Linked DNA regions of Homo sapiens. Each later gene encodes a partner of the first gene's protein in a complex. Each region holds a gene or a part of one and is shown in the gene's direction. Other genes may lie near its edges.

What was found. The genes of interacting proteins can lie anywhere in the genome.
Region 2: VPS54 (region 1) and VPS51 share a complex: the UniProt entries of both Homo sapiens proteins name them as parts of the golgi-associated retrograde protein (GARP) complex.

What each region holds. Positions count from the first base shown.
Region 1 is NC_000002.12:64,016,393-64,023,387, reverse strand, and holds the start of VPS54 (vacuolar protein sorting-associated protein 54), read left to right. Parts: upstream 1-3,959; 5' UTR 3,960-4,450; intron 4,451-6,995. UniProt on the Homo sapiens protein: Acts as a component of the GARP complex that is involved in retrograde transport from early and late endosomes to the trans-Golgi network (TGN).
Region 2 is NC_000011.10:65,099,178-65,106,213, forward strand, and holds part of VPS51 (vacuolar protein sorting-associated protein 51 homolog), read left to right. Parts: intron 1-7,036. UniProt on the Homo sapiens protein: Acts as a component of the GARP complex that is involved in retrograde transport from early and late endosomes to the trans-Golgi network (TGN).

The sequences.
Region 1 (6,995 bases):
AAAATATTATAAATTTTCTAGTGGTGCTTATATCTACATTTAGCTTTAATATCTTACACCATACTCAAAGTAAACTGGAAAGTTTTCCTACATTAAGATAGTCCTATATTACCTATGAAGAAATATCAAAACACAGTTTCAGGTTAGAGTCATATTGTTATAAATTATCATTTATATTTTTATATACTATATATTAGCTGTATCAAAAATTGTAAAATTTTTTAAATTATAAAAACACATATAATTATATATTTATATATATAACATTTAAGAATAGCTCAAATATGATGCATAAAATAATTCAGGACATTATTGGATCCAAACCCTAATGAAACAATTACCAGCTTGACACCTTCAGTTCATTAGTGCATGTAAATCTTGCTTATCAAAGATAGCTTATTTATACTAAACACACAATATAATTACACATATTTAGCTGTAGAGTAGGTTAAGAATGTGGATGGGTTTCCATTGCATAGATTCAAGGTTTGCTATCACAGAAAAAAGAAGCTAGTGCTTCTATCTTACTAAATTGGAAAATTATTTTTCTCATTGTTCATTCTATCAGTGCCCCCTTTCCCCTCTGTATTTATATAGCACGGGAATGTATAGTTTCTATCAAATAAATCATTAGAAAGGCAATGTTCAGGCCGGACATGGTGGCTCACGCCTGTAATCCCAGCACTTGGGGAGGCCGAGGCGGGCAGATCGTGAGGTCAGGAGATCACGACCATCCTGGCTAACACGGTGAAACCCCGTCTCTACTAAAAATACAAAAAATTAGCCAGGCGTGGAGGCGGGCGCCTGTAGTCCCAGCTATATTGGGAGGCTGAGGCAGGAGAATGGTATGAACCTGGGAGGTGGAGCTTGCAGTGAGTCGAGATCGTGCCACTGCACTCTAGCCTGGGTGACAGAGCAAGACTCCATCTCAAAAAAAAAAAAAAGAAAGGCAGTGTTCAGTGATTGAGTAGCTATGTTAACCTTACTACTGCCACCTATACAAATATGCACAGAATACACAGTAAACATAAACATAGCCCTTTTATAGGTGTTATGGCATTAGAAAATTTGCCATTCTCCCTCTAATTAGAACATATAACCTTGATGGACTATCACTTTTCATGTGATTGGTCGGTAACAGATATAATAAATATGCCAAATACAGTGTTAGTGACATGGTAGCTAAATATTTTCTTCCTGATTCCTTTTTTTGAAGGCAATGATGGAATCTTAACTCCTATCCATTTCTTAATTTTGTATTAATTTCTTAATTTTCTATCATCTGTGCTTTCTGGAAATGTACACTAATAATATATCTATACCTATTTATTTGTGATTTGGCTTTTAGCTCTCATACTGACTGAAATGATTCAAGTGATAGCAAGTGAACATAGTAATTAATTTGAAATTTATCTAGGTTTAAATGAAATTGCTTGCCCAGTTTACACACTTTAAAAAAATTTTTGCAAACCTGATCATCAGCATTTACTTTCCTGTTTAGATTCAAGATTATGAATTGTTCTGTGGAAAAGTAAAAGTAAAAGTAAACATTGAGCTGGATCTCTGAAAGAACTAAGCACGACACTCAATGTGTATTTTCTTCCTATGGTATGTTATCAACAGATGGATAATGAGGAAGCAAACCAGACTGTCTTGTTCTAGTGTCTGGGAGACAACTGACGGCTATCATTTAGTCCAAGTGCCAAGTTGGAATCTTTTCTGGAACAAGGTGGGGTATAAACACAAATATTTTTTTAAAGGCCAAACCAGCCAGGCTTAAGGAAGTTTTTGAACTGTTGTTGACTTCCTGAGGGGGGTCAAAATATAAGAATTTGCTAAATCCAATTCCTAGCATAATCTATGAACTGATTCTAGACATAAAGAAAAATTATTTTCCTTTCTGGCCTTAGATAAAACTTGGTTAATCCTCTTGTTAATATTTTCACAGTATAAACACATCTTTTTTAATAAAAAATTTTTAAACTGACAAATAATAATTATATATATTTATAGGATCCAATGTGATGTTTTGATATATGTACACACTGTGGAATAACTAAACCAAGCTAATTAACATATCTTTCACCTCACCTACTTTTTTTTTTTTTTTTAAGAGATGGTGTCTGGCTATGTTGTCCAGGCTGGACTCAAACTGCTAGTTTCAAGGCATCCTTCCACTTCAGCTGAGACTACAAGTGTGGGCCACTGTACCCAGCTTATTTTTTTTATGGTGAGAACATTTAAAATGTACTCTTGGCTGGGCGTGGTGGCTCATGCCTGTAATCCCAGCACTTTGGGAGGCTGAGGCAGGTGGATCACGAGGTCAAGAGTTTGGAGACCAGCCTGGCAAATATGGTGAAACCCCGTCTCTACTAAAAATACAAAAATTAGCTGGGCGTGGTGGTGCGCGCCTGTAGTCCCAGCGGCTCGGGAGGCTGAGGCAGGAGAATTGCTTCAACCTGGGAGGCAGAGGTTGCAGTGAGCCAAGATCATGCCACTGCACTCTGGCCTGGGCAACAGAGCCAGACACAGTCTCAACAAAACAAAACAAAGAAAGTACTCTTTTAGCTATTCTGGAATATTAAATACATTGTTATTAACTGTGGTCATCGTGCTGTGCAATAGATCACTAAAATTTATTCCTCCTACCTGAAACTTTATACCCTTTGACTCACATTTCCCCTTTCCTCATCACCCTTTACCCCCCAGTCTTTGGTAACCACCATTCTACTCTGCTTCTATGTAAACTCATCTGGTTTTATAAGTGATCAGGGATTTAAGAGGACTTCACTCTTTTACAGTTAAATTTATTTCATATTGGGGAATGATTTTCTCACTTTGTTTCTTACATAATTTTAGAGGATTGAACTTAGAAAAATATAATGTAAGAGTTTTCTCTCAACTATTTTTGATGCTTCCTTACTTTTTGTCCTCTTTCCCCAACTTTAGCTCTTTGGTGGGGAAAATATTATTTCATAAAAGTTATGTTTGCAGTTTTCAAAGTGACTTCTTAGAAGTGAAACTTGGATCAACATTTTTTTCAACCCCCCAACTATAAGAGTTACATTTTCACTTTTGATTTGTTAAAACATACTATGTCTTATAAATGCTTGAAATTTATTTTTAGGCAAGAATTTCAACATTGAATAAAATCTTCCCAAAATTAAGTCACAAGCACTCAAAGGATTGAGGATCTTTTTCTTCCTAAAATATATGTGTGTGTGTGTGTGTGTGTGTGTCTTTATATTTATATACTAAGACCTTCCCTTTCTTGTGGACTGTGTTTTATTGGTTTAAAGTTGCAAGTCCTGTGAAACCAGGCTGAAGTCAGAATTAGAAGGTATTAATTATCATACACACTCCAAGTATCTCAGTCAAGTAACAGGAATAACTGATTACAGTGTCTGGGAGGAAGGCCTGGAACTTGGGGAAGACTTGGAGGGGAGGACTGGATGGGGAAAAGGCCTCAATAGAGAGAACTGGGTTGTTGCGGAGGGGTGACCTTTAACCTTTGGAAGGGCATTTACTAGGGAACAGCTGAAAAGCATTTACTTCGAGGGGGTGGGGGAGAGGAGGAATCTCGTGGAAGTATTTGCTTTAATAGGTCCCGGGTGATTTAGGGATGTTTCGAGTCGGTTGGTCTTGGGGGTGGCGAGGGCTACGCTGGAGGGGTCGCGTCCCAGTCCCGGGGAAGGCGGCAGGAGGTTTTCTGGGTGTTCCTGAAAACTGGGAGTTGGGGGGAAGGGTGGTGGGGAAAGTGGAATTCAGCGTGGATTTGTCTGCGTGTAGGACTATTAGAGGAGGCGCAGGGGAGCCACGCGGTGTATTCCCCGCCCCGAGAGAACTCTGGCTGCGCCTGCGACGGGCACGCCGGCCTGCGCCAAGGCCGCTTTCCCCAGGCGGCGGGCGCTCCCCCCGGCCCGGGCCGCGGCCCTCCCGCCCCGGCGGAGCCGCGCGGTGGATTGTGGGCTGGGGGCTGCGGCGGCCTCCGGCGCTGTCTCCCCGCACCCGACCGGGCCGAGCCGGCTGGGCCGGCGGGGTGAGGGAAAGCAGTGGAGTCGGGAGCAGAAGCGCTAGAGGCAGTGGTCGTGGCGCGGCGGCGGCGGCTCCCCTGGAGGCCGGGGATGTGGGAGAGGCGGTGGCAGCAGCGGCGGAGGCGGCGCTGCGGACCCGGGGGAAACTGCTGGCTGACAGGACACCCGGGAGAGACGTGAGGGAGCCGCCGCTGCCACCTCTCACCCCTGAGTGAAGCTGGGCTCGAGAGGGCGGCCCTGTGCTCCCCGGGCCGACTGGCCAGCGGGCGCGGGGCGGGGGCGGGAACCCGGGCTCGGGCCCGGCCGGGCGCCGGGCGGCGGCGGCCGTGGAGCAGCAGCCTCGGTGCGACGTGGAGGGCTGGAGGCGGCGGCGATGCACTAGGCCTCGCTCAGGGCGGCTGCCCCGGGACCCGCAGGTAGGTGTGCCCCGCGGCCCCCCGCGCGTCTCAGCCCACTCTCACCCCGACCTACAGCGGAGAGAGGGACCGAGACCCCACCCCCTCGGCTCTCCTCCCCAGCCCCAAACGGACCGAGTTTCGGTCACAGCTGACCGGCACTGAAGCTTCCATGCTCCTCTCCGCCACTTCCTTTTTTTTTTTTTTTTTTCCTTTTCACTCTCCCTCCGGGATCGGGGCTGGCAGCTGTGTTCCCTGCCTCCTGTCAGCGACCGCAAACGCCGCTCTTGCCCCTCTCTTATCTTTCCGGGATCCCAGCTCTGGAACTTCCATCACCCCCTTAGACGCTGCCCCCAAACTTTCCTTTTCTTTTTCCAGCCAGGCCCTTAGTCCTATTGGATTCTACTGGAATCGTTAAAACATTTGTTTGTTTTTCTCTCCGGGGAAGGCTAACCCAAAGAGTTACTCAGTATTTTGCATTTTGGCAATGTAGCTTGAAATAATTTGTGCAATAATTTTCTTCAGTTCTGCCTCCTTCCATCTCTGCATAGACAGAAAGGGCAGGCCCTCTCTGCCGTTTCTGCTCTCCCGTCGTTGACTTGGGAACTTTGGCTTGCCAATTATAATTAGCCGTTTGGTCTGTTCATGTGTTGAGTTCAAGATGGTATTTTTAGCATTTTGACTGACAGGCGTTTCAAAAAAAAATTTTTTTCTTCTAACCAGCTTTATTTTTTGGTCTTTATTGAGGCTCTTTCGAAGAATTAAATTGTTTGGACTGTTTTTGTTTTTAATTGGCTGTATTTCTGATTTGTCAAATCAAGGGCGGTCTTAATACTAAACGCCTTTAAGTAATACCGTGATAAATTACTTGTAGTATACCGAGAAATATTACTGCGATAACCTAAACTGCAGATTTTGATGTACATTCACTTTTATAAATCCGAAGGGGAGTTCTAATTGGAAAAAGCACCTTCAGAGCCTAAATGATTTCTAAGCAGTTAAATGATGGAACAGAGGGAATGATGGGATTTGTTTGACTGTATTTGTAGTGTAGTCAGAATCGGATTTCCTAGAAATGGATGTTGATGGTTCGTAGTGCTCATCATTGCTTATGATAGGTTACCAGTAGCTGTAATTGATAGTTGTTTGGGACGACAGTAGATGTTTGCGATTTTATTGTAATTTGGCTATTTTTAAATTATGTTCTGATAACTTAAGAATTATTACACTACCAATCTAAGAGGCAGTCTGAGGATCACTTTTTTAAATAAATGAAAAATGTTTTAATGGGTTTTTAAAATAAAGAATGCATCACAACCAAATCGTAAAGACTGTTTTGTTGTTGATATTCGTATATTTTGTTCTTGTAGAAGTATTGTTACTACAGCATTTGGCTTTCTGAAGTGTTTTTGAAATTAGAATTTAATACTAAAAGTTTACTAGGAAAAGGTGATTACTTTTGCATATGCTTATATTTTCTGGAAAGTTAAAATTGATTTCTGGATAAGATAATTTTTTGTGTCAGAATTAAAGTCAATTCCTATATAGCCCATGAAACGGCAAATTTTGCAGAATTTCTTCATCACACTCTTTTTTTTTGTTTCTTTTCTTTTTTTTTTTTTGAGACGGGGTCTTGCTCTGTTGCCCAGGCTGGAGTGCAGTGGCGCTATCTTGGCTCACCGCAACCTCCGCCTACCGGCTTCAAGTGATTCTTCTGCCTCAGTCTCCTGAGTAGCTGGGACTACAGGCGCCCCCACGCCTGGCTGATTTTTGTATTTTTAGTAGAGACGGGGGTTTCACCATATTAGCCAGGCTGGTCTTGAACTCCTGACCTTGTGATCCACCGGCCTCGGCCTCCCAGAGTGCTGGGATTAGAGGTGTGAGCCACCGCCCCGGCCCCGGCCCATCACACTCTTTTTTTTTTTTTTTTTTTTTTTAATCAACAAAAGTTAATTACAATTCCTCTTTCCTGCTCTTTGCTTTTTAAAAACTGCTTTATTGAGATAAAATTAACATACCATAAAATACACCCATTTAAGGTGTACCACTTGGCCGGGTTCAGTGGCTCACACCTGTAATCCCACCACTTTGGGAAGCCTAGTCAGGTAGATCACCTGAGGTCCAGAGTTCGAGACCAGCCTAGCCAACATGGTGAAACCCCGTCTGTACTAAAAATATATAAATTAGCCGGGCATGGGGGTGAGCGCCTGTCATCCCAGCTACTGGGGAGGCTGAGGCTGGCGAATCGCTTGAACCTGGGAGGTGGAGGTTGCAGTGAGCCAAGATAGCACCACTGCACTACAGGCTGGGTGACAGAACGAGACTCCATCTCAAAAAAAAAAAAAAAATATACAATTCAGTGGTTTTTAGATTAAATAATTGTGCAACCATCACCATAATCTAATTTTAGAACATTTTCATCATTCCCTCAAAAAACCTTTATCCATTAACAGTTACTCCCCATTCTCTTCACCCCACCCCCAGCTTTAGGCAACCACTAGTCTACTTTCTGTCTCAATATTGGCCTAATGTGGGCCTTTCATATAATGCTTCTTGGCTCATAGCT
Region 2 (7,036 bases), on another chromosome or scaffold:
TCAGGAAAGTAATGTAGCATGGAGTGTGTGTTGATTGGGCAAGAGAGAGAGAAAAATGAGAAAGGAACTAGGTCCTCAGGAAGGAGGGGGGTGGAACAGAGCAGGGATGGAGGCATCGGCCTCAGCAAAGGGCCGGGAGCTCATCTATGGTAGCAGGAGGGGAAGCAGAATGTGGGCAGAGCCAGGCAGATAGTAGATGTGCAGTTTAACTAGAAACCTTCCAGAATGTATTAGGGATTTGGCTTTTATCCACAGAGAGCTAAAACAAATGAGTGATGTGCTCAGATTTCTGGTTTGAATAGATTCCTCCAGCTGCACTGGCAGGAATGGATGGGGCTGAGCACAGTGGCTCATGCCTGTAATCCCTGCACTTTGGAAGGCTGAGGTGGGAGGATCACTTGAGCCCAGGAGTTTGAGACCAGCCTGTGCAACATAGTGAGACCCGATATCTAGAAAAAAAAAAATAGCTGGGTATGGTGGCACACACTTGTTAGAATAAACCCAGCTACTTGGGGAGGCTAAGGTGGGTGGATCACATGAGCCCAGGAGCTGGAGATTGCAGTGAGCTATAATCTCACCATTGCACTCTAGCCTGGGTGACAGAGCAAGACCTAGTCTCAAAAAATAAATAAATAAATAAAAAGGCCAGGTGCGGTGGCTTATGCCTATAATCTTAGCACTCTGAGAGGCCGAGACGGGTGGATCATCTGAGGTCAGGCATTTGAGACCAGGCTGGCCAATATGGTGAAACCCCATCTCTACTAAAAATACAAAAATTAGTCAGGCATGGTGGCAGGCATCTGTAGTCCCAGCTACTCAGGAGGCTGAGGCAGGAGAATCGCTTGAACCCAGGAGGCGGAGGTTGCAGTGAGTCGAGATCGCGCCACTGCACTCCAGCCTGGGCAACAGAGCGAGACTCCGTCTCAAAAATAATAATAATAATAAATAATAATAAAAGGACAGCCCACAGAATGGGAGAAAATATTTGCAAGTTAGTTATCTAATAAAAATCTAGTGTTCAGAACATAAAAAGAACGTTTTTTAGCTCAGGGCTAAAAAGACAAATAACCCTAATTTAAAATGGGCAAAGGATTTGAATAGACACTTCTCCAGAGAAAACATACAAGTGGCCGAAAAGCACATATAAATATGCTCAGCATCATTAGGTCTTAGGGAAATGCAAATCCAAACCACAAAATGCTGCACCCAGTGTGGAAGACAGTTTGACCATTCTTCAAAACCACACACAAGATTACCATATGATCGGCAATTTTACTCCTAGGAATATACCAAAGAGAATTGAAAACATGTTCACATAAAAACATGTACACAAGTGTTCATAGCAGTGTTTTTTTTTTTTTTTTTTTTTTTGAGATGGAGTCTAGCTCTGTCACCCAGGCTAGAGTGCAGTGGTGCCATCTTGGCTCACTGTAACCTCCGCCTCCCCAGTTCAAGCGATTCTCCTGCCTCAGCCTCCTGAGTAGCTGGGATTATAGGTGTGCACCATCACACCCGCCTAATTTTTTTATTTTTATTTTTTGTATATTTACTAGAGACGGGATTCCACCTTGTTGGCCAGGCTGGTCTTGAACTCCTGACCTCAAGTGATCCGCTTGCCTCGGCTTCCCAAAGTACTGGGATTACAGGCAAGAGCCACCATGCCTGGCCAATAGCAGCACTTTTTATAATAGCCACAAGGTGGAAGCAATCCAAATGGCCATCAATTGAATGAATATAAACAAATATCCACACAGTGGAATATTATTCAGCCATAAAAATAGATATAACATACTGACACAGGCTACAACATAGATTAACCTTGGAAACATGCTAATGTTTCATATGCCTATGATTCCATTTCTGTTAAATGTATTCTGTAGCGAATAGACAAATCCATAGAGACAGAAACTAGATTAATGGTTGCCAAGTTCTAGGAGTGGGGGAATAAGGAATGACTGCCAAGGGTTACAGGGTTTCTTTAGGGGATGATGAAATGTTCTGGAATTACGTAGTGAGGTTGGTTGTACAACCTTGTGAATATATTAAACATATTAAAAACCACTGAATTGGTATGTCAATTATATCCCAATTAAAAAGAAAACCAGGCATTGAGCCAGATTTGGCCTGCAGGCTGTAGTTTGCCAACCTCTCACCTAGACATTGAGTTTCATTATGTAATAATGCATTTACTTGTGTCAAAATTAGAAAGATCTCAAACATTATACAGGGAAAAGCCTCTCCTAATTCTTTTCTCTAGGCAAAGACAAAGCAGTCTTTGACAGTACATTTCACTGAAAATTAACAGAGCCCAGGTGGGATTATGGCTCATACCTATAATCCCAACACTTTGTGAGGCAGAGGCAGGCAGATTGCTTGAGCTCAGGAGTTCGAGACCATCCTGGCCAACAGGTTATACCTGTCTCTACAAAAAATACAAAAATTAGCTGGGTGTGGTGTTGTGTCCCTGTAGTCCGAGCTGCTCAGGAAGCTGAGGTGGAAGGCTTGTACCTGGGAGGCAGAGGTTGCAGTAAGCCAAGATTGTGTCACTGCACTCCAGCCTGGGTGACAGAGCCAGACCTTGTCTCAAAAAAAAAAAAAAAAAAAAAAAAAAAAAGAAAATTAACAGACATACAGAAAAGTGCACATAAGTGGACAGCTCCATGGATTTCACAAAGGGAGCACAGTCACATAATCAGCATCCAGGTCGGGAAACAGCATAACCAGCAAAGCCCCCTGAGCCTCCTACCAGTTACCACCCAGTCCCCTCCCAAGGTAGCCAACATCCTCGCATCCAGATGGCTTTCACTCTCCCTGGTTACAAACTGCTTTTCTTAACAAGCTTTTTTTTTTTTTTTTTTTTGAGACAGAGTCTTGCTCTGTCATCCAGGCTAGAGTGCAGTGGCCCAATCGGCTCACTGCAACCTCCGCCTCCGGGGTTCAAGTGATTCTCCTGTCTTAGGCTTCCAAGTACCTGGGATTACAGGCACCTGCCACCACACTTGGCTAATTATTGTATTTTCAGTAGAGACGGGATTTCACCATGTTGGTCAGGCAGGTGACCTCAGGTGATCCACCTGCCTTGGCCTCCCAAAGTGCTGGGGTTACAGGCGTGAGCCACTGTGCCCAGCCTGCTTTTCTTAACAAGCTTGAAATGCAAAGATAAACAGTGTAGTCTTTGTGACTGAATGGTGTGGATGCTTTCACTGTTGTTTTTGGATATGGTACAACTTTTATCTCCAGTGTAATGGCTCCATGGCTGGGAAGGCAGCGACAATGACAGCACACAGCACTGTTGGGTTTTCTTTTACTCTATTTTCCTAACAACTTAGTGTTTGGATTTTACCCTTTAGAAGTTGGATTCAAGCTTCCTTCTTGAGGTAGCCCCTAAGTGTCATGGGCTCAAACACCCACTACCAAAAGAGTCTGCTCTTTTCATGGTAGCTTTTGGCAGACCTGGAAGGAGATTGTGTCACATGGCCTGTAAACAAAACCAGTAATTCACTGGGTGAAGACCAAATGCCTCATCAACTGCCAAGCCTCTGTCTGTCTCCCTTAGATCAGTAGCCCATGATCCCTTTACGAACCTCAGCCTCGGCTCTGCTTTTATTGTTTTTCACTGCATAGCGCTGCCTTTGCTATGTCCTTTAGTTCACCATCTATGAATTGGCAAGAAAAATTTTCTTGCCAGGCACAGTGGCTCACTCCTGTGCTCCCAGCACTTTGGGAGGCTGAAGTGGGAGCATTGCTTGAGCCCAGAAGTTTGAGACCAGCCTGGGCAACATAGAGAGACCCCATCTCTACACAAAATTTAAACAAAAATTAAAAAATTAGCCGGGTGTGATGGCGCTTGTGTGTAGTCCCAGCTACTTCAGAAGCTAAGGTAGGAGGATCACTTGAGCCCCAGAGTTCAAGGCTGCAGTAAGCTGTGTTTGCACCACTGCATGCCATCTTGGCTCACTGTAACCTCCGCCTCCCCAGTTAAGGTGATTCTCCTGCCTTAGCCTCCTGAGTAGCTGGGATTATAAGTGTGCATCACCATGCCTGTAGACAGAGCAAGACCCTATCTCAAGCAAAGAAACTCAAAATAATTATGATTTCCCCAACAAAATGCAGGCAATGGTCCCTATGGTCCCAAAAGTAATATAGATGTTTCACATCATGTGATTTTATTCCTTAGTAACCTTCCTTTCTATGAAATCATCTCTAAGAGGGCTAAATGATCCTTTCTTGTGGACTGTGTTGTTAAAATGAAAAGTCCATTTTGCTGATACGTAATCTACCTTTCCATGTAATTTTTTAAAAAATCCCTTAATAGCTCTACAGATGTGAGCCCTGTAGATTCTTTGTCTCAGACAGTTCTTTCTCTTATATTTTCTCTAATATTTTTTTCCTGCATTTTTTGTTTCTGTTTGTTTCTTGTCAAATTGACATCAATGCTTTTCTCCTTACTCACCCTTCCAGCTGTCTCCCCAAGTGGGGTAGATTCCCAGTGTTGCTTGGAGAACATTCCTACAGTCCCAGAGCCACACACAGACCAGGTGTGGGTGTGTGAAGGCTCACAAGTGATTGCAGTTAGATATTTCCAGATTCTTCTTTGTAAATGCTGATCAGTTTGCATAACCACCAGCAAAGAAGAGAATACCTCTTTCAATCTTTGACAATCTGAGAAGTGAAAAGTGGTATCTCTTATTGTTTATAGTAACGTTTACAGGGTGTTTTTTTTTGTTTTTTTTTTTTAGGGCTTTCTATTTATTCAATTATTATTATTTGAGACAGAGTGTTGCTCTATTACTCAGGTTAGAGTGCAGTGGCACAATCTCAGCTCACTACAACTTGTGCCTCCAGGGTTCAAGCGATTCTCCTGCCTCAGCCTTCCCAGTAGCTAGGATTACAGGCACCTGCCACCACGCCCAACTACTTTTTGTATTTTTACTAGAGACAGGGTTTTACCATGTTGGCCAGGCTGGTCTCAAACTCCTGACGTCAAGTGATCTGCCTGCCTCGGCCTCCCAAAGTGCTGGGATTACAGGCATGAGCTACCGTGGCTGGCCTATTTATTTGATTATATCATCTGCAAATAGTGATACTTCTCCCTCCTTTCCAATTTGTGTATCTCCATAATACATCTCGTGACTCTAGCTGAGTTGGCTAATGCCCCAGAACAATGTAGATAACATTGGCAATCAAGGTTGTCCTTGCCATGTTTTGACTTTAATTGGAGTGCTTCTAGCACTGCCTCGGTAAACATGATACTGAGTTTTGGAGGTCAGGGAAATATTTAGCTGCTCATATGTTATTGAGAGTTTTTTAAAAATCAAGAATAGATGTTGAAATATCTATTAACATGGCAAATTATTATGAGATCCTCTAATTTTGAGTCATCCTGGCATTCATGAAACAAAAACCCTTTTGTGTTTATCAATTATTATTTTAATATGCTGCTGGATTTTGTTTGCTTATTTGTGCATCTCCATTTGTTTATTTAATTCATCCTTGCATCTCCATTCATAAGAGATATGAATGTGTATATGTGAGGTATTTCTGTTATGTTTTCATAACAGTGTTATGTTTGTTCCATCAAGTTTGTGTGAGAGCTGTTCTCGTTTCTCTGCTGGGGCAGTGTTTACACAGAGAATTGGAAGGCGCTGTCCTTCAAGCCGCCGCAACACCCCTGGACATCTGGGCCAGATGCCTTTGTGTGGAGGGGAAAGGGGAGTAGGACCTTTCTTTCACAACATTCTCTAGTTTTTCTGTTTCTGTTTTCTTGTTTTTTGCAATCCATTTTGGTAAATCCTATTTTTGTAGCAAATTATCCATTTCATCCATAGAATTCACCAAGCCCTTACCAATTTAGTGTTTTCTTGGTATTTTACCCATGCTGCAATTTCAGTTTTGATTTCCTTTTCTGACCTCATAATTGGTTAACAATGAGGTTTTTTCGACTGGGCACGGTGGCTCCCGCCTGTAATCCCAGCACTTTGGGAGGCCGAGGCGGGTGGATCACTTGAGGTCAGAGACCAGTCTGGCCAACATGGTGAAACCCTCTCTACTAAAAGTACAAAAATTAGCCAGGCATGGTGGCACGTGCCTGTAATCCCAGCTACTCGGGGCTGAGGCAGGAGAATCGCTTGAACCCAGGAGGTGGAGGTTGCAGTGAGCTGAGATCGCGCCACTGCACTGCAGCCTGGGCGACGGAGGGAGACCCTGTCTCAAAAAAAAAAAAAGAATGAGGTTTTTTTCTTTGTGATCTACCATATGGAAAGGTTTGTATATATTTTATGGCATTGTTTGGGAAAAATGCAAACTGTGTGCTTCCTATGCTCTCACATCACCACAATCATGACCACAGAAGAGTTCTGTGACCAAATGTGTTGGGTTTCTTCCCCACACACCAAGCAGCAGACACCCGCTGGGTGTCCTCTGATTTAATTCCAACACTATTTACCCAGAGATAGCATCAGATTCCATGAGTTGAGGGCTGAGTCCCCAAGCCTGCCTCCCTTCAGGCACTAGTTCAGTCCCAAATCTGCCTCCCCACTTTCAGGCACTAGCTGCAGGTCAGGGCCTCAGGCCTCCAGAATTTCTGACCAACTGGCTCCAGGTAGGGGTTTCCATAACTCCCTCTTTGGGCTCAGTTTGCTGGAGTGGCTCACAGAGCTCAGGATAACACATTTACCAGTTTATTACAAAGGATGTTACAAAGGGTACAGATGAGCAGGTGCATAGGGCGAGGTGTAGGAGAAGGAGCATGGAGTTTCCATGCCCTCCCCGGGCGTGCCACCCTCCAGGAGCCTCCAGAGCTGAGATCGCGCCACTGCACTCCAGCCTGGGTGACAGAGTGAGACTCTTTCTCAAACAAAACAAAACCAAAATATCTCCTGTTACAGATACACATTTCTGTCTTATCCTCTTCGCCTTTCTTTATGAACATTGTTGGTATGTTCAATGGAATTAGGGAAATTAGTTGGGAAATGTTGGCAGTTGTTGGACAAGAGATGATAGTGGCTTACAAAGAAAATGTTGCAGGTAGACCTTC